Homo sapiens: one gene and its partners. The protein of the gene in region 1 purifies or fractionates together with the protein of each later gene. This does not show direct contact. Each region holds a gene or a part of one and is shown in the gene's direction. Other genes may lie near its edges.

Region 1 (5,251 bases):
TGTTTCAGTTATATTCATGTTGCCTCAAATAGTAATGCCGTGTGTGGAAAATACTAAAATCCTGAATATTATCTACTTTTGATGGGATTCTTGTTTTTTTTTATTTTTATTTTTTTGGGACAGAGTTTTGCTCTTGTTGTCCAGGCTGGAGTGCAATGGTGTGATCTCGGCTCACTGCAACCTCTGCCTCCCAGGTTCAAGCATTTCTCCTGCCTCAGCCTCCTGAGTAGCTGGAATTACAGGTGTCTGCCACCACACCCAGCTAATTTTTTTGTAGTTTTAGTAGAGATGGGGTTTCACCATGTTGGCTAGGCTGGTCTTGAACTCGTGACCTCAGGTGATCTGCCCGCCTCGGCCTCCTAAAGTGCTGGGATTACAGGCGTGAGCCACCGTGTCTGGCCGGGATTCTTGTTCTTTAACTTAATAATTTAAAATTTACTTCAGCTATTAGTATATCATTACTTAATATTGGTTTAGTATGCTCAAAGTAACACTATGATCAGATGTAGAAACATGCTGGATTTTTTTTTCTGTAGTTACATTATTTAGTAGGAGATATTTTATTAATATTCTTTGAAATATAAAGTAAGGGTAGATAGGAAAGAGAATGTGGGGTGAAGTTAAATCCCCTTCTTTTGTGGTTGCCCCATGGATCAATGCCTCTACTCACCTAAATTTGGTTCAGATGTTGAGACTGACAATAGCACACACGCAGCAAAAGAGTATGAGGAGATTTATTACTTACATATGCCTAAAACAATGCTAGAGCCTGTGCTGAGCTTTAAGCATCTCAGAGATTACTTGAGATGCTCTCTAGAAGTTTATAATCTATAGGTTTTGAGCTGGTGGTCTTGCAGGCTGTCCTCTAGGCTTTGCCTTTTGCAAACTACCTTTTCAATGTTACCAGTGAAACAGCTCTACTTTGGGTACCTAATACTATGTTAGTCTGCTCATTCACTGCTTTCCACCAGTCTGTATGTTAAGCTAGTGTTTTGATAACTGCCCTCTATGCCTGATCACTGATTGTCTAATAGTGAAATAGGTAACTGTACATGACCAGTCCCCCCTTATACACCCCCTTCAGCTAAACATCCCTGAATATAAAAATTAGCCAGGCATGGTGGTGGGCCCCTGTAATCCCAGCTACTTGGGAGGCTGAGTCAGGAGAATCTCTTGAACCCTTGAGGTGGAGGATGCAGTGAGCCGAGATCACGCCACTGCACTCCAGCCTGGGCGACAAAAGCGAAACTCCTTCTCAAAAAACAAACAAACAAAAAAATCCCTGAGAGCAGGCAGTATTGTTCTCTTAGTATTGTCCATATGCTGAGCGTAATGTTTTGCACACAGTGGTTGATATATATTAATATATATAATTTATGCTATATGTACTATAATATCATCAAGATATATGTATATTATATATATTATATAGTTAATTGTGTGTTTAGAGAACTTTTTTTCTAGATATATGATTTATTGACCTAACAATCATTCTACATTCACTTAAATGGAGTGAGGATGGCAAGTGTATGCTGGGAGCAGAGGCAGGGAACACCTGTGTGTCAAGCGCTCCACATGTGTTCTGCCTCAGGCTCTAATATGTGTGTGTATATACACAGACACATACATACATACATACACACATACACATATATATATTACATCAATATATATTATGCCAATATTGTGTATATGTTTATGACTGAAATACTACCTTTATTTATTACACAGTTTTCAGAAGTGTATCAAAAGTTAAAATGGGGACTTCCTGTGACAATAAATTTGGCAATTTCCCAAATGCATTACTACTGACTTCCCTTTTTTGTTATCTGTATGTTAATCACCTTCACTCCATGCACCAATTACCAGTTTTATCATTGCCAGAGCCTTGACTTTGTGGTCCTCACTTCCTCATCTGTGAAAGAGGAGACTAGATCAGCGTTTCAAGATGGCTGCCTGTGCCAGTGTTTTATGACAACTAATGGAAATGATCTGTAATACTTCGGTGGTTTAGAGAACATTAAACATGCTTATGAAAAATTATAGTTTATGTAGTAATGATGACGATCATAAATAATGTTTAATTGGTCCTATTCTTGTGTCAAGCACTGTGCTTTGTGTCTGTCATCTCTCTTGACCGTTACAGCAATTCCATGGAATTTTAAAATTATTTTCATTGCAGATATTAAAACATGAACTTCAATTGAAAAAATGGAAAAATAGGTTAATACTCAAAAGAGCTGCTGCAGAAGAATCCAATTTTCCTGAACGAAGTTCTTCTGAAGTCTTTCTTGTAGATGAGACTCTAAAATGTGACATTTCACTGTTACCTGAAAGAGCAATATTACAGGTTTGTATGAATTCAGTATACATTATATACTATAATCTGCCAAGTGTGGTGGTGCATGCCTGTAATCCCAGCTGCTTGGGAGGCTGAGACAGGAGAATTGCTTGAACCCAGGAGGCAGAGGTTGCAGTGAGCCGAGATCACACCATTGCACTCCAGCCTGGGCGACAATAGCAAAACTCCATCTCAAAAAAAAAAAAAAAAAAAATATATATATATATATATATATATACACATATATATACATATATATGTATGTATACACTATAATCCTACTCTTGATGTATTGCATTCAGTTAGAATAAGGATATTTTTGCCCATTATTTCTTCCTTTACAAATTACCTGCTCCTATCTTGTCTGTTTTTACATTGTAATTCCTATAATTTTCTTACTGGTTTGTAGTAGCTCTTTATATTGGCAATATTAGCCCTTTGGAATATATTTGGAGATTTTTTTCCCCCACACTTGATGTTTGCTTTCAGTTTTGCTTGTGGAGTCTTCTGGTGACAGAATTTTTTTTTTTTTTTTTTTTTTTTGAGATGGAGTTTCGCTCTTGTTGCCCAGGCTGGAAGTGCATTGGTGCAATCTCAGCTCACTGCAACCTCCGCCTCCTGGGTTCAAGCGATTCTCCAGCCTCAGCCTCCAGGTAGCTGGGATTACAGGTGCCCACCACTACGCCCAGCTAATTTTTTGTATTTTTAGTAGAGATGGGGTTTCACCATATTGGCCAGGCTGGTCTTAAACTCCTGACCTCAGGTGATCCACCCACCTTGGCCTCCCAAAGTGCTGGGATTACAGGCATGAACCACCACACCCGGCTGATGACAGAAATTTTAAAGCTTTATGTAATAAAGTCTGTCATCCTTGCCCTAATTATTTCTCTCTCTCTCTCTCTCTCTCTCTCTCTCTCTCTCTCTCTCTCTCTCTCTTTTTAACTTTTATTTTAGGTTGAGGGAGTACATGTGAAGGTTTGTTATATGTAGGTAAATTGCGTGTCATAGGAATTTGGTGTATATTTTGTCACCCAGGTTATAAGCCTAGCATTCAATAGATACTTCTCCAATCCTCACCATCCTCCCACCTCCACCCTCAAGTAGATCCTGGTGTCTGTTCTTCCTTTCTTTGTGTCCATATGTACTCAGAAGTTTAGCTTCCACTTGTAAGTGAGAATGTGTAGTATTTGGTTTTCTGTCTCTGTGTTAGTTTGCCTAGGATAATGGTCTCCAACTCCGTCCATGTTGCTGCAAAGGACATGATCTCATTCTTTTTTATGGCTGCATAGTATTTCAATGTATATATATACCACATTTTAAAAAATCCAGTCTACTGTTGATGGGCATTTAGGTTGATTTCATATCTTTGCTATTGTGAATAGTGCTGTGATGTGCATATGCATGCATGTGTCTTTATGGTAGAATGATTTATATTCCTTTGGGCATATACCCAATAATGGGATTGTTGGGTTGAATGGCAATTCTGTTTTATGTTCTTTGAGAAATGGCCAAACTGCTTTCCACAATGGCTGAGCTAATTTACATTCCCACCAGCAGTGTGTAAGCATTTCCTTTTCTCTGTAACCTTGCCAGTATCTGTTATTTTCTGACTTTTTAATAATAGCCATTCTAACTGGTGTGAGATTTACATTTCTCTAATGATTAGTGATGTTGAGCATTTTTTCATATGCTCATTGGTTGCCTGTATGTCTTCTAAGAAGTGTTTGTTTGTCTGTTTTCACCACTCTTTTAATGGTATTTTTTTTTGTTTTGTTCTGTTTTGTTTTGTTTTGTTTGAGACGGAGTCTCATTCTGTCGCTCAGGCTGGAGTGCAGTGGCGCGATCTCAGCTCACTGCAGGCTCCACCTCCCGGTTTCACGGCATTCTCCTGCCTCAGCCTCCTGAGTAGCTGGGACCACAGGTGCCCGCCACCACGCCCGGCTAATTTTTTGTATTTTTAGTAGAGGCGGGGTTTCACCGTGTTAGCCAGGATGGTCTCGATCTCCTGACCTCGTGATCCACCCGCCTCGGCCTCCCAAAGTGCTGGGATTACAGGCATGAGCCACCGTGCCTGGCTAATGGTGGTGTTTTTTTCTTGTAAATTTGTTTAAGATCCTTATAGATTGTGGATATTAGACTTCTGTTGGATGTATAGTTCACAAATGTTTTATACCATTCTATAGGTTGTCTGTTTATTCTGTTGATAGTTTCTTTTGCTGCTAGAAGTTCTTTTGTTTAATTAGGCCCCATTTGTTAATTTTTGTTTTTGTTGCAATTGCTTTTGGCATCTTCATAATGAAATTTTTGCCAAGTTCTATGCCCAGAATGGTATTTCCTAGGTTATCTTCCAGGGTTGTTATAGTTTTAAGTTTTACATTTAAGTCTTGCATCTATATTGAGTTGATTTTTGTATATGGTGTAAGGAAGTGGTCCAGTTTCAATATTCCGCGTGTGGCTAGCCAGTTATCCCAGTATCATTTATTGAATGAAGAGTTCTTTCCCTGTTGCTTGTTTTTCTTGATTGTGTAGATGTGTGGCATTATTTCTGGGCTCTTTATTCTGTTCCATTAGTCTATATTTCTGGTTTTTTTTTTTATACTTTAAGTTCTAGGGTACATGTGCACAACGTGCAGGTTTGTTACATATGTATACATGTGCCATGTTGGTGTGCTGCACGCATTAACTCGTCATTTACATTAGGTATATCTCCTAATGCTATCCCTCACCCCTCCCCCCACCCCACTACAGGCCCTGGTGTGTGGTGTTCCCCATCCTGTGTCCATGTGTTCTCATTGTTCCATTCCCACCTATGAGTAAGAACATGCGGTGTTTGGTTTTCTGTCCTTGTGATAATTTGCTGAGAATGATGGTTTCCAGCTTCATCCATGTCCCTACAAAGGACATGAACTC
Region 2 (4,620 bases), on another chromosome or scaffold:
GACTTGTCTCAAAAAAAAAGGTAGATGATGCATTAAGAAATCAACAAATTAGCCGGGCACAGTGGCTCAAGCCTGTAATCCCAGTACTTCGGGAGGAGGCCAAGGTGGATGGATCGCTTGAGCTCAGGAGTTTGAGACCTAGCCTGGGCAACATAGCGAAACCCTGTCTCTACAAAAATTACCTGGATGTGGTGACGTGTGCCTGTAGTCCCAGCTACTTGAGAGGCTGAGGTGGAAGGATCGCTTTACCCTGGGGGGCGGAGGTTGCAGTGAGTTGAGATCGCACCACTGCACTCCAGTCTGGGTGACAGAGACCTGGTCTCAAAAAAAAAAAAAAAAAAAAGAATCAACAAATTAAAAAAAATCAGCCGGGCACGGTGGCTCACGCCTGTAATCCCAGCACTTTGGGAGGCTGAGGCGGGCGGATCACGAGGTCAGGAGATCAAGACCATCCTGGCTAACATGGTGAAACCCCGTCTCTACTAAAAATACAAAAAATTTGCCGGGCGTGGTGGCGGGCACCTGTGGTCCCAGCGACTTGGGAGGCTGAGGCAGGAGAATGGCGTGAACCCGGAAGGCGGAGCTTGCAGTGAGCCAAGATTGCGCCACTGTACTCCAGCCTGGGCGACAGAGCGAGACTCTGTCTCAGAAAAAAAAAAAAAAAGGAATCTAATTCAAATGAGTTAAGTTATGAAAAGAAAGGGATAATCTCTGTGGCTGAAAAAATAGGCAGGTCCTGAGGTATGGCTTGGTCTGTGTGTGTCTCTCTCTTCCCGCCTCCCTGTCTCCTTCCTTCATCCCTTCACTTCACTTCCTCGTGTTAGCTCTCACACGTTTTCCTAGAAAGGGGGGTAAGATGGTCCCAGGCAGCTTCTCTCTTCTCTAATTCCAGTAAAATGAGAGATGATGACGTCCCTCTCCAATCAGGCTGTGATGACATTTTAGTGCAAATGTTACATTGTTTTTTTTTTTTCTCTTAATACTGGCCGGCCCCAGAGTCGCTGTGATGAAATGGGTTCATGCCATGTAGATTTGACAGCCTGAACACTAAGTCATCATCTGCAACTGAGTTTTTGACTCATGACTTTTGATTTCGGAATTAGGCTGTTTTCACTTTTTATTGACATGTAACATGCGTATAGACAAGTGTACATACAGATCCTGAGTGTGTGGCCAATGGATATCCTTCCTCAGTGCCCAGACCCAGGAGCAGGACCTTCCCAGTACCCACATCCCCTCTGTTAGCCAGTATCCTCCCTTCTGAGGGTAAAGTTGTCCTGGCTTCTAACCCTGTAGATGAGTTTTGTCTCTGTTTTCACTTGATATAGCATACAGCATCTCCTTTTATGTCTGACCTCTGTTGCTCAACACTCTGCTTGTGAGCTCCTTCCCTGTTGTGTGTTTGGGTGCCCCTGGCTCTCGTGCAGTGGGGCAGTGCCATGCATGATGAGCTGCAGCTGAATTGCTTGTTCTGCAGTTGACAGGCCTTTGGGCAGGTTCCTGTTGCTCGCTGCTGTGAGTGCAGCCGCTGTGAGTGCGGCCGCTGTGAATACCCTTGCACGTGTTGTTGGTGCACAAGTGTGTCACTGCCAAATCCAGCATCTTGACTTAGCCCTCTCTTTTCTTCTAAGAGTTTTATAGCATTATTTCTATGGTTTTCCATTCATTTTGAGCTAAATTTTGTATATGATGTGAGGTGGTCCACCTTCATCCCTTTACATATAGATAACCAGTTTTCCCTGCACCAGTTGTTGAAGACACTGTCCTTTCTCCACTGAATCATCTTGGCACCTGTGTAAAAAGGAAATATTTGACCATATGTATGAGTTTGTTTCTTCCCTCTCTGTTCTGTTCTATCAGTCTGTGTGTTGTTTTTATCCAGTACCACACTGGCCTGGTTGCTGTTGCTTTATAGTAAGTTTTGAAAATGGGAGGTTTGTTGGGCACGGTGGCTCACACCTGTAATCCCAGCACTTTGGGAGGCCAAGGTGGATGGATCACCTGAGGTCAGGAGTTTGAGACCAGCCTGGCCAACATGGTGAAACCCCATCTCTACTAAAAATACAAAAATTAGCCGGCTGTGGTGGGTGCCTGTAATCCCAGCTACTCAGGAGGCTGAGGCAGGAATATCGCTTGAACCTGGCAGGCAGAGGTTGCAGTGAGCTGAGATCGCACCATTCATTGCACTCCAGTCTGGGTGACAAGAACGAAACTCCATCTCACAGAAAAAAGAAAATGGGAGGTTTTAGTTTTCCAACCTTGTTCTTCTTTTTAAAGATTGTTTTGCCCTATTTGGGATTTCTTGAGATTCCATATGAATTTTAGGATCAGCTTGTCAATTTCAACCAAGAAGCCACCTTGCGTCTTCTAATACGTGAACATGGATGTCTTTTTATATAGGTCTTAAAATTTCTTTCAACAATGTTTCGTAGGTTTTAGAGTATGAGGCTTTGTATTTCTTTTAAGTTTATTCCTGTTTTCTTCTTTCTGTTACTATTGTAAATGGAATTTTCTTGAAATTGTTTTCAGATTGTTACAAGTATATGAAAATACAATAGGTTTTTGTATGTTGATCTTTCATCCTGCAACCTTGCTGAACTAATGTATGAGTTCTGATAGTTTTAGTGGACTCCTTAGGATTTTCTATGTACAGAATCATGTCATGTGAATAGAGTTCATTTTCCTTCCTTTCAAATCTGGATGATTTTAATTTCCTTTTCTTGCCTGGTTGCCCTGGCTAGCCTCCGGGACAATGTTGAACAGAAGTGGCAAGAACAGGCATCCTTGTTTTGTTCCTGATCTTAGGGGGAAGCATTCAGCGTTTTGCCATGTAAGCATGCTGTTAGTTGTGGGGTTTTGTAGATGCCTTATGTTAGGTTGAGGGGCTTCCTTTATACTCCTTAGTCGTTGAGTATTTTAGTTTACTTTTAACTATATACAGATATATTACTTTCCAGTTAAAGTAGTCAGTTACTCTGTTAAGACAAAAATATTGGGTCAGCATTTTAGACATAGTATATAGTCCCATACTGCATCTTTGGGTCAGCGATGGACCACATATGACAGTGGTCCCGTGAGATTATAATCCTCTATTTTTGCTGTATTTTTCCTATGTTTAGATACACAAACATTTACCATTGTTAGAATTGCCTGTAGTATTCAGTACTGTAACATGCTGTATAGGTCGGTAGTCTAGGAACAATAGGCTATACCACAGAGCCTAGGTGTACAGGAGGCGCCACCATCCAGGTGTGTGTAAGTGCACTCTAGAATGTTCACACAATAGCAAAATCGCCTAATGATGGCGTTTTTCAGAGTGCACCCTCGTTGTTAAAGCTTAGTTTTAGTGTTACTTTGCTTACCCCTTCCCCGGTTGATCAGCACGTAGGTTGCTTGGATTTTCTTCATGCTCACAGGTGTGTGTTAGTCAACATTCAGCCAGTGTTTTTGGAGCAGCTATGGGTGCCTGGTGGTTTCTCAGGGCTGAGGATACAGCAGTGGCAAAACTCAGCCATCTCTGCCTTCTTGGAGTTTCTAGTTGGAGGGAGAGAGTAGTGTGAAGCCTCTGTCCAGAGGGTGGGCCTGCTGGTGGGAAGGCCTGTCACTGTGGTGACCGTGTGAGGTGACGGCTGGGAGGTGGCTTGAGAGCTGGTGAGTGGGTCTGTCTGCTCTGGTTGCCATGGCTGAGGCTCAGCCCACTTCCCCAGGGCCTGCCCTCCACGGATGACTGGCGACGGACGGTCTCCTTACGGCCGCATTCTGTCCCTGCCCGCCTGTGTTCTTGCCGTTGGCTCAGAACTCCCTCTCCCAGCCTCTCCTGGTGTCGTCACACCCCAGGCTCCCTGGACCCTTCTGTGACCTGCCTGTCATCCCAGCCCGCTCTCCTTGGGCTGACCCTGGGCTGCAGGGAACAGGATGGGTGTCGGCCGGTCTGTCCCACACAGCTAGCTGACGAGGTGGTTTCTGGGGCAGGAGTGGAGGCAGCACAGACAGTGAGGACGAAGAAGAGGAGGACGAGGAGGAGGAGGAAGACGAGGAGGGCATTGGCTGTGCAGCCCGTGGAGGGGCCACCCCTCTGTCCTACCCCAGCCCTGGCCCTCAGCCTCCAGGTGAATGAATGGGCGGTGTGGTCAGGTGTACACAGGGCTGTCTGCCTGCTACTGAGTTCACCCTCCATCCCGCTCCCCCACCTCTATCCCAGGCCCCAGCTGGACAGCCACCTTTGACCCAGTGCCTACAGATGCCCCGACCAGCCCCCGAGTCTCCGGGGAGGAAGAGCTGCACACTGGGCCTCCAGCCCCACAGGGGCCCCTCAGTGTGCCCCAGGGCCTCCCCACTCAGAGCCTGGCCAGCCCTCCTGCCCGTGACGCCCTGCAGCTCAGGTGAGAACCGGATGGAACGGGCTAAATGGTGCTGGTATCCCGAGGCCAGGAGGTGGCCATGGGGTCCCCGTCCTCTCATAGGCTCGAGTGCTAACCCTAGCTGCCCCCTTGGGCTGCCTCTCTCGCCTACCAGGTCTCAGGACCCCACACCCCCCTCAGCACCTCAGGAAGCCACAGAAGGCAGCAAAGTCACGGAGCCCTCAGGTGAGCCCCGCTTTGCCCTGCCCACCCGCGGCCC
Region 3 (5,251 bases), on another chromosome or scaffold:
TTTTGACCAATTTTAGTGTAAGTATAGTTTTTAGAATAATGTCTTATCTAAAATCATGTTTCCTTTTAATTTTGATTTTACATTTCCTAGCTTCAGAGGTTAACCAAAATAGTTACCTTAATTTTTTTGCGAAGGAGGAGAATCATAAAGACTTTCAAAATGCATGTTGTTATGTTCTTTAGATATCATTTGCTGTTTCTGAAGCTAAAGAGAAATGGAAGAGTGAGCTTGAAAATATGAGGAAAAATATACTTCCTGGAAAGGAATTGGAAGAGAAGATTCATTCTCTTCAGAAGGAACTTGAGTTAAAGAACGAAGAAGTCCCTGTGGTCATCAGGGCTGAGTTAGCTAAGGCTCGGAGTGAATGGAACAAAGAAAAGCAAGAAGAAATCCACAGAATCCAAGAACAAAATGAGCAAGATTACCGGCAATTTTTAGATGATCACCGAAATAAAATTAATGAGGTGCTTGCGGCAGCTAAAGAAGACTTTATGAAACAAAAAACTGAACTACTTCTTCAGAAGGAGACAGAATTACAAACTTGTCTAGACCAGAGTCGTAGAGAATGGACTATGCAGGAAGCCAAGCGGATCCAACTGGAAATCTATCAGTATGAGGAAGACATCCTGACTGTACTTGGGGTTCTTTTAAGTGATACCCAAAAGGAGCACATCAGTGATTCTGAGGACAAGCAGCTTTTGGAAATCATGTCGACTTGTTCTTCAAAATGGATGTCTGTGCAATATTTTGAAAAACTAAAGGGCTGCATACAGAAAGCATTTCAAGATACACTTCCTCTGCTTGTAGAAAACGCTGACCCAGAATGGAAAAAGGTATGTTCCTGAGAGTGAGAGAAGGTATTGAACACCAAGAATGATTATAGAAGTTGTATATAGTGTTTTTTCCTTTTTTCCTTTTAAATTTTAGTAGATGTAAGTCTTATGTTTTTGTCAGTGGTTTAAAAAAGTTTCTGTAGCGAAATCCAAAGGTTTGCATGTTTCGTTGCCAAAAAACTTTACTACTTCATAGTGTCACAAATACAAGACAAGATTTTAGCCTCTAAATATCTTTTTCCTAAAGAATATTTAGGACAAATACCTAATGCATGCGGGGCCTAAAACCTAGATGACAGGTTGATAGGTGCAGCAAACCACCATGGCACATGTATACCTATGTAGTAAACCTTCACGTTCAGCACATGTATCCCAGAACTTAAAATAAAATAAAGAATATATGCTGTTCTTTCTAAGGGCCTGAGATTTCAGAAACTGAAAATTTTTTTTTCAAAATTCTGTTTTCTGGGCCTGACCACTTCATGAAATATGCATAATAAGAGTTTCTTAAAAGCTTGTAAAGAGTTTGGAAGCCTATTTATTGCCCTCAATAAATTTATGTCTCATTTAGGCAAAAAAATGCCAACCAAGTACAAAGGTATTGATATAGAAACAAGCAAATAAATACGACTCACTCGCATAAAACTCTGAAGCCCAGTTTCTGGATGTACTATATATGTGCATATAGAATTAATTATATTCTTTTAGTTATATAAGTACTCTCTGAGACCAGCTTTTAATTTGTATGAAAGTTTCAGTAAAACCAAATTCTTGCTACCTTATGATCAAAGCAATTAGGTATGCATGAAAGATCCAGAATGATATTCTGAGCATGGTGATTAGCCAATTTCAACATTTGGGATTAGAGGCAGGAAAAAAAAAAAAGCCAGTATTATAAGGTTTGTCTAATAGAGTTGAGACTTAAGAGTGAAGTTCCATCAAAATATTGTGATTAAGGAGTTTCAAGGCCAGGATTGAGCATTTGGTATTAATACCTACTTGGGAGAGTTATAAACTAGAAAAAATAACCTTGAGTTTCAGTTCCATATTCGATGATAACTAGATTATTATATTGGGCAATCACATAGTTGCTCACTGGAAAAATAAAATACAAATCCCCGGCCTAATTCCTTGGGTTTGGGTAGGATATGCATGGCACAGCTTAGCCTTTCTGGGTCCTGCATTTGAAACAGTATAGAATTTTAGAGCCAGAAGGGACCTGAAAGATCAGCTCACTCCATCCTACTTCACCCCAGTTGATATTTTTATCCTTGACCTCACAAAGATGTTGCTACCGAGTAGTTGCCTTCAATGTAAAATTTACTGGGCAAGATCACTTCCCATGAATACTGCTTCACACTTAATTGAGATTTTTTGGAGAAAATAATTAAAATAACTTGGAGAAAACATATAATTAAAAAATTATAGCAGATTTGGAGATGAGAAATGATGGGAAAATCATGTTTACATGCTTTCGTTTGTAAGCATGTTTCGATTTTTATAACAGTTATAAAATCTGTTATAAAAATCAAGAAACTATGACACCTTTCTCCTACCATTAATATATACATATAAAATCAACCCTGGAGTCTTTTTACAGGGCTTATAATTGTGCAAGCAGTATAAGATCATCTGTGTGACTTAATGAGGCTCATAAGTCTATGGAGACAGAATCACATAATCTGGCTAAGAATTTAGATGTTTACGGCTTTTGTTGGGTGGGTCAGATTCCATTCCTGAGAAAAGGATGGCTTTGAAATGCCTAATCTGGAATTTGTCATAGAAGTAATACTTGACCTTCTGCCATTTTCGAGCTATCTTCACTCAGGACCTTGAGGTAAAGCTATGATTATAGAGCAGTGATTTTAAATTTGTTACATAGGTGCTGTAAATGTGAGGAACTATAATTTATAATTTATTAACTCTCTAGTTTTAAAAATTGTTCATGGAAATTAAAACAAAAGATGGTTTATTAATATATAAAAACAAGTCCTCATTAAAATAACTGAGACAATCAAAAGTTTTTTTAAATGGAGAGGATGCAATGAATGAAAAATATAGCTTTCAAGAAAATGAATGCCATATCAAAATATATTAATACAGTAGTTCATAACAGATAAAACAAATATCAAATGGAACAAAATTTTCAAGCAAACTTAAGGATGTATGTTGTCTCTTTTACCATCAAAGTCAAGTTAAAACTGAGACAAAAAGGTTGTTGCTTTTCTCCCTTTTCTGTTATCTTGACTTTTCTTCCCCAGTTTTGAGTAAAAACTGGAAGCACTGACTGCATTTTGGTTCAGCTTTTCCTACTCCTTTTGACCTCAAACCCATAGCTTCTTGATTGCCTCTTCTCTATAATTGCTAACCTCTGCTTCTGTTGGACATTGTAAGTAGGTTTTCTGACAGTCAATTAAGTGGTTTCTCATAATCAAAATCAAGGCTTCTAGAATCAGGCATATATAGTATGTTTTAAATAATCAGTAAGACTACTTTCTCCATACCACCTATTCTGTTCCTTTCCGATTTAGTAGTCATCTTAAATCTGAAAACATTACCATAAAAATCCATTGATTTGGCTGAGCGTGGTGGCTCACACCTGTAATCCCAGTACTTTGGGAGGCCAAAGCAGGCGGATCACGAGGGTTGAGGCAGGAGAATCGCTTGAACTGGGAGGTGGAGGTTGCAGTGAGCTGAGATCGCGCCAATGCCCTTCAGCCTGGCCGATAGAGGAGGACTCCATCTCAAAACAAAAACCAAAAATGAAAAATCCATTGATTTAGTAGCTGTATTGCTGTGACAAGGACTGGAACATAAAAACGTTCAATAAATATTAGTGAAGAAATGGTCTTGTGCAAGATGTTTAATTTAGCTAAGCCTCAGTTTCTGTCCTTAACTTTGGCATTCAGCTGGCCTTCCTTACAAAATTACTGTGTATGTTAAAGTATTTAGAAGCATATGAAGTACTATATAAATTTAAAATGATTTTTAACTGTTATTTTCAATTCATAGGAGGCAGAGGGTTAGCATTATACTTGCTAATTAACTTGTTCCTTGCTGTAGTAAAAATGTTCTAGATTTTCAAGAACAATTCTGATTTTATATTGTCTTTCATGTGGTTTAATCACGTAAACCATTGAAAAATCTCAAATTCACATATATAATGTGCAAACCATATCTTCTGTCTGTCTCATAGCTGCCCACCAGTCGCCTGTCAGACAGTGTTCTTATTTGGAAAGTTTCATAGGAAGCTAGTTCCTAGTACAGTGACAGTACTTATATAACACCCTAAGAAAAATATTGGCGATAGATAGTTCAGGCAAGATTTTTTTCAGGTAGTGTTTTCTCTTTGTATTTTTAATATTAGCATTTTAAATATAAAATTGTATAAAGATTTTTACTAAGCATTAACTTTGAAGATACTTTATTTCAGAGAAATATGGCCGAGCTCTCTAAGGATTCTGCCAGCCAGGGCACTGGCCAAGGAGACCCTGGACCTGCTGCTGGACACCATGCTCAGCCCTTGGCCTTACAAGCAACAGAAGCAGAAGCTGGTAATTGGATTTTGTTCCCACCAGTCTTTGTAGCATCCATAATCACCCATCTGAAGGGTTGCTTTGAGGATAAAAGGAGATCATAGATGTGAACAAATGGGTAATAATCGTCTGACTTAATGTCCCCTCTTCCTAGATTTCATTTTGTATTTAGATAAGAGGGTTAATTTAGGCCCTCTTCTTCTATTTATGGTTTTCCCTTCATTCACAACTGATTCTTGTTACAAGGAGAATCATGAGAGTTTTAATGGAGAAGTCATGTTTTTATTCCCTGAAATCAAGGGTTTCACATCAGAGAATTGCCAAGTAATACAGACTTTTTCATTCAAATTACTGAAACTAATTTCAATCACTTTTTAATGGAAATCTTTCTGAAATGTATTAGATGTTTTCTAATTGATTTGTGAGTTTTTCTGAGGGCCTGGGCAGTGTTTTTAATCTCTTCCTTTCCAACGTATGGCAGAGTGATGAATTAATAGTTTAACTTTTCCTTAATGACTTAGACTCTTCATCATGACAAAAGAATTCTTATACTGTACTAGAGCCGCTTGTATTCAGAGCTTACTGAGGAGTATAGGACTTATATTGCCTATTCATGGAGATTTCAGAGCTAGAAATTTGCAAATCCTTTATTAGCTCCCATCTCTTTTAGCTTCTTGACCCTTTGCAGCCTACTCCTTTCCTCCCCACACAAACGCAACAGCCTCTCTCTGCTGCTTATTTGCTGTTTCTAATGTAACCTGGAAAAGAACTAATAATTGCCAAGGCCAGTCATACCTACTAAGTAAATAACCTCAGTTTGCACACATTTCTAATTCAGAAGGCAATGTTACCAGAATCTTAGAGAATCTCTGCCTATACCAT
Region 4 (5,251 bases), on another chromosome or scaffold:
ATCGTGCCACTGCACTCCAGCCTGGGTGACAGAGTGAGACCCTGTCTAAAAAAAAAAAAAGTCATTACATATTTTTAAAAATCTGTGAGACAGTCACATCGTTCACCAGGTACAAAAGAGTACATAGCAAATGGTCCCTGTCCCCAAACCTGGTCCCCATTCCAGAGAAAACCACTGTTATACCTGTTTCTGCTTCCAGAGATTTTAATAAATCTGTAAGAACAAATGTGGGTGTGTGTGGTGTGTGTGTGATGTGTGTGTGTAGTGGGTGTGTGGCGCGTGTGTAGGGTGTGTATGGTGTGTATGTGGGGTGTTTGGCGTGTCGTGTGTTAGTGTAGCGTGTACATGGGTTGTGTGGTGTGTGGTATATATGTGGAGGTGTGTGTGGTGTGTGTGTTGCATGTGTATGTGTGTGGGATGTGTGTGCTGGGGGGATGTATGTATATGTGTGGGGTATGTGGGGTGCATATGAGGTGTGTATGTGTGGTGCGTATGTGTGGTGTGTGGATGTGCATGGCGTGTGTGGGATGTGTGGATGTGGTGTGTGTATACGGGGTGTGTGGTGTGTGCTTATGTGGAGTGTGTCGTGTGTGGTATGTGTGCACACAGACACACGGATTAATCTCGTTTCCTCAGATGTGCACGGCTGGCACAGGCCATCCTGACTGTGGCGCACCTTGACCTGCCTCTGTCCTTTTTTCTTAAGCAACAGTAGCTTATCTTTCCCCTTCCTGCGGGTGAGGAATGCAGCAGTGGCCCCTGCTGAGGAGGGCGGCTTCTGGCTTTGCGTCTTCATGAGGTTGCATGAGGTTGCATGAGGTTGTGGTCAGCCGTCAGCCGGGCCTCGTTCCCTGAAGGTCTCATTGCACTAAGCCCTGTGCGCTGCACCTCATTGATCCCTCACAATCCCCCTCTGAGGAAGGGGTGCTAGAGATGGGCTTCCACCATGGCTCGCCCCGGGGCTAGCAGAGTTTTGCTGGCAGTTGGCAGGAAGCTCGGGCTGCGTGAGCGGCCTCACCACGTGGTGGTCGGCTTCCCCAGCGAAAGTTGTGCACGATGCAGGGCAAGAGCTCTGGGAGCTTGGATGCCATTCTTTTTTTTGCTCGGGGGTAAAATTCACATGAAAATGTTAAAGTATACCATTCAGTGGCATCTGTCCTTTTTTTTGGTGGCTGCAGGGTATGCCATTGTGTGGCTGTCCAGTACCATTACTGGAGTTCCGTGCTGGGAGCCATTTGCAGGGTACGTCCCCTCAGCTCCTGCTGCCCGAGGCGGTGGTGCCACTGCCCTTCCCAGGACAGGAGGGGATGGACTCGCTCGCCCTCTGTGGAGCCACTCCAAAGTGGTTCCTTGTTACAGTCTACCAGAGTGGCACATTTATTACAATCGATGAACCTACATGGACACCTCATTGTCACCCAGAGTCCATAGTTGACACTGGGGCGCACTCTTGATGCTGTATGTACTATGGGTTTGGACAACTGTATCATGACATGGATCCATACTGTAGTATTCTACAGAGGAATCTCGCTGCCCTACAAATCCTCTGTGCTCCCGCTAGTCATCCCACCCCTGAGCTTTTTACTGTCTCCATAGTTTTGCCTTTTCCAGAATGTCATATGCTTGGAACCATGCAATCTGCAGCCTTTTCCGACTGGCTTCTTTGGCTTAGTAATCTGCTTTTAAGGTTCTTCCATGTCTTTTCTTGGCTTGATAGCTCATTTCTTTTTAGCGCTGAATAAGCGTAACTTTTTTAAGGGAGATGTGTGGGCTGCAGTGATGACTTTGGCTTTCTTTCCAAAAATGACGGCAGCCATACTGTGATCCCTGCCCCCAACTGCTGCACAGAGAAGAGGGTGAATGCGGCGAGGGTGGGTGGAAGGTGGGCGGTGAGCTGGGGGGTTATGGTGATAACCTAGGCAAGAGATCAAGGTTGTGGTAGGGAGCAGTGGTTCTCAAACAGGGACAATCGTGTCCTCCACAGGACATTTAGACAAATGTCTGGAGACATTTTTAGTTGTCGCAGCTGGGAGAGAGGGACTATTGGCATCTACTGGGTAGAGGCCAGGGATGCTGCTCAACATCCTGCAATGCACAGGACGGGCCTCCCAACCCAGAATGATCTGGCCCCAGATACCAACCGTGCCCAGGTGGAGAAACCCTGGCGTAAAGGGGACAGGTCTCTCCTGGGTACATTTTGAAGGTAGAGCTGACAGGCCTTGCTTACAGATTGAATGAGAGGAGTCTTTGTGTTTTCCAGTCCATGCATGCCTGTTCTTTTTTCTTTCTTTAATTAAATAACATCTGGCTGGGCGTGGTGACTCATGCCTATAATCTCAACATTTTGGGAGGCCGAGACAGGTGGATCACTTGAAGCCAGGAGCTCAAGACCAGCCTGGCCAACATGGTGACACCCTGTCTCTACTAAAAATACCAAAAAATTAGCCAGGCATGGTGGGGCATGCCTGTAATCTCGGCTACTCGGTAGGTTGAGGCATAAAAATTGCTTGAACCCGAGAGACGTATGTCGCAGTGAGCCAACTGCCACTGCACTCCAGCCTGGGCGACAGAGCGAGACTCTGTCTCAAAAATGAAATAAAATAAACTAAAATAAATAAATATGTAACCCAATATGTCCAAACTATTATAATTTCAATGTGTAATTAATATGGACTATTAATGAGACACTGTATTTTTTGTCATGCTAAGTCTTCAAAACCTAGTGTGTGCATTTTACAAATGAAGCACATCGCAACATGCTGAGTTTTCAGGGGTAGTGTGGAGTGCGCCAGAGCAACAACGTTGTGTGTGTTTTTCTTTTTTTGGTTTTCTTTTTGTGTGTGTGTGAGATGGAGTTTCGCTCTTTTTGCTCAGGCTGGAGTGTAATGGCGCAATCTCGGCTCACTGCAACCTCCACCTCCCGGGTTCAAATGATTCTCCTGCCTCAGCCTCCCTAGTAGCTGGGATTACAGACGCACGCCACCACGCCCAGCTAATTTTGTATTTTTAGTAGAGACGGGGTTTCACCATGTTGGTCAGGCTGGTCTCGAACTCCTGACCTCAAGTGATCTGCCCACCTCGGCCTCCCAAAGTGCTGGGATTACAGGCATGAGCCACCGCGCCCAGCCAACGTTGTGTTTAATGGAAAATATTTTACACTGCTTCAGTTTTTCACCTTAAGTTTAAATGAATGGAACTTAAATGAAATGAACAACTCTTTTCCTTAGTTGCACTGGCCACATATCAGGTGTTTAGTGGCCACAAGCTACTAGCAGCTTCTGTCCTTCTTGGCCAGCACAGGCCTAGAGCCTACCCAGGAGGGGGCACCTTACTGGAGGTGCACTCCAAAGGTCAGTTCTCATCCTGCTGGGAGTCCTTCCAGAGTTCTCATTGCCCTCTGGATAAAGGTCATGCATGCTGTGTAGCCTGGCTCTTTAGGCCTCAGTTTCCTCATCTGTAAAATAGAATTCTGAAAGCACACACTTCCAGGATAATTGTGAGGATTAAAAGATGTTGCGGACTGGGGACGGTGGCTCACGCCTGTAATCCCAGCACCTTGGGAGGCTGAGGCAGGTGGATTATGAGGTCTGGAGTTCAATACCAGCCTGGCCAACATGGCAAAACCCTGTCTCTACTCAAAATACAAAAATTAGCTGGGTGTAGTGGTGCATACCTGTAATCCCAGCTACTCGGGAGTCTGAGGCAGGAGAATAGCTTGAGCCTGGGAAGCAGAGGTTGCAGTGAGCCAAAATGGTGCCACTGCACTCTAGCCTGGATGATAGAGCAAGACTCTGTCTCAAAAAAAAAAAAAAGAGAGAGATGACACAGCCGGGCGCAATGGCTCATGCCTGTAATCCCAGCACTTTGGGAGGCCCAGGCAGGTGGATCACTTTAGGTCAGGAGCTTGAGACCAACCTGGCCAACATGGTGAAACCCTGTCTCTACTATATATACAAAAATTAGCCGGGTGTGGTGGCAGGTTACTATAATCCCAGCTACTTGGGGGGCTGAGGCTGAAGAATAGTTTGAACCTGCGAGCGGAGGTTACAGTGAGCCAAGATTGCTCCACTGCACACTCCAGCCTGGGCAACAGAACGAGAGTCCATCTCAAAATGAAATAAATAAGTAAATAAATAAAATAAAAAAATTAAAAAAGATGATGCTTCCATCAATGGAGGAATGGATAAAATATGGTATATCCATACAATGGAATGTTATTCAGCCATGAAAAAGAATGAAGTGCTGATACCACTTACGACATGAATGAACCTGGAAAACATCATGCTGAGTGAAAGCAGTCAGACACAAAAGGTCACGTATTTTATGGACACATTTATATTAAATGTCTGGGACAGGTAAATCCATAAAGGAAGAAAGTATATCTGTGGTTGCAGGGGCCAGAGGGAAGGGAAATTGGGAATGACTGCTCATAGGTTTCCTTTGGGGGGTGATGAAAATTTCCTAGAGTTAGTGGTGATGGTTATACAACCCTGTGAATATCTTTAAAAGGCTGAACTGTGTGGATTGTGAATTATATCTCAAAAGCATACTTCAAAAAAAGATAATGCTTGCATATGCAGGCCCATGGCAAGGGATGATAGTGGTTGGTGGTGATGATGGTGACGATGATTGACGATAATTATATTGTTAATGGTAGTGATGATGATGGCGGTGATGGTGATGTGGTGGTGATGGTGATAGTGATGGTGATAGTGATGGTGATGTTGGTGATGTCATGGTGATGATGGTGGTGGTGATGGTGGTGGTGGTGATGGTGATAGTGATGGTGGTGGTGGTGAGGATGGTGGTGATGGTGATGGTGGTGAGGATGAGAATGGTGATGATGATGATTGTGATGGTGGTGAAGATAGTGGTGATGGTGGTGATGATGATGTTGGTGATGGTGGTTGTGATGATGTTGGTGATGGTGCTTGTGATGACAGTGGTGGTGGTGGTGACTGCAAGCTCAGGACCTTTCCCCCTCTCCCAGGTCTGGTCCGAGAGCAGGAGGCTGGGCTGCTGCAGTTCCTCCGCCTGGACGGCTTCTCTGTGTTGATGAGGGCCATGCAGCAGCAGGTGCAGAAGCTCAAGGTCAAATCAGCATTCCTGCTGCAGAACCTGCTGGTGGGCCACCCTGAACACAAAGGTGTGGCAGCCCTTGAGTGAGGGCAGGAGTGGGGAGCAGACGCCCTGGGGTGGGTGCAGGTGTGGGAGAAGGGGAGGAACAGGCATCCCGGGGAGGGCATAGGAG

What was found. The genes of interacting proteins can lie anywhere in the genome.
Region 2: the proteins of FBXL13 (region 1) and PPP6R1 purify together in Homo sapiens (affinity purification with mass spectrometry, with the first as the bait; one large-scale study listed by BioGRID). This does not show direct contact.
Region 3: the proteins of FBXL13 (region 1) and CEP152 purify together in Homo sapiens (affinity purification with mass spectrometry, with the first as the bait; one large-scale study listed by BioGRID). This does not show direct contact.
Region 4: the proteins of FBXL13 (region 1) and HSPBP1 purify together in Homo sapiens (affinity purification with mass spectrometry, with the first as the bait; one large-scale study listed by BioGRID). This does not show direct contact.

What each region holds. Positions count from the first base shown.
Region 1 is NC_000007.14:103,022,162-103,027,412, reverse strand, and holds part of FBXL13 (F-box and leucine-rich repeat protein 13), read left to right. Parts: intron 1-2,182; coding exon 2,183-2,350; intron 2,351-5,251. UniProt on the Homo sapiens protein: Substrate-recognition component of the SCF (SKP1-CUL1-F-box protein)-type E3 ubiquitin ligase complex.
Region 2 is NC_000019.10:55,231,564-55,236,183, reverse strand, and holds part of PPP6R1 (serine/threonine-protein phosphatase 6 regulatory subunit 1), read left to right. Parts: intron 1-3,972; coding exon 3,973-4,109; intron 4,110-4,201; coding exon 4,202-4,382; intron 4,383-4,515; coding exon 4,516-4,586; intron 4,587-4,620. UniProt on the Homo sapiens protein: Regulatory subunit of protein phosphatase 6 (PP6). May function as a scaffolding PP6 subunit. Involved in the PP6-mediated dephosphorylation of NFKBIE opposing its degradation in response to TNF-alpha.
Region 3 is NC_000015.10:48,751,485-48,756,735, reverse strand, and holds part of CEP152 (centrosomal protein of 152 kDa), read left to right. Parts: intron 1-182; coding exon 183-833; intron 834-4,266; coding exon 4,267-4,387; intron 4,388-5,251. UniProt on the Homo sapiens protein: Necessary for centrosome duplication; the function also seems to involve CEP63, CDK5RAP2 and WDR62 through a stepwise assembled complex at the centrosome that recruits CDK2 required for centriole duplication.
Region 4 is NC_000019.10:55,266,026-55,271,276, reverse strand, and holds part of HSPBP1 (hsp70-binding protein 1), read left to right. Parts: intron 1-4,990; coding exon 4,991-5,146; intron 5,147-5,251. UniProt on the Homo sapiens protein: Inhibits HSPA1A chaperone activity by changing the conformation of the ATP-binding domain of HSPA1A and interfering with ATP binding. Interferes with ubiquitination mediated by STUB1 and inhibits chaperone-assisted degradation of immature CFTR.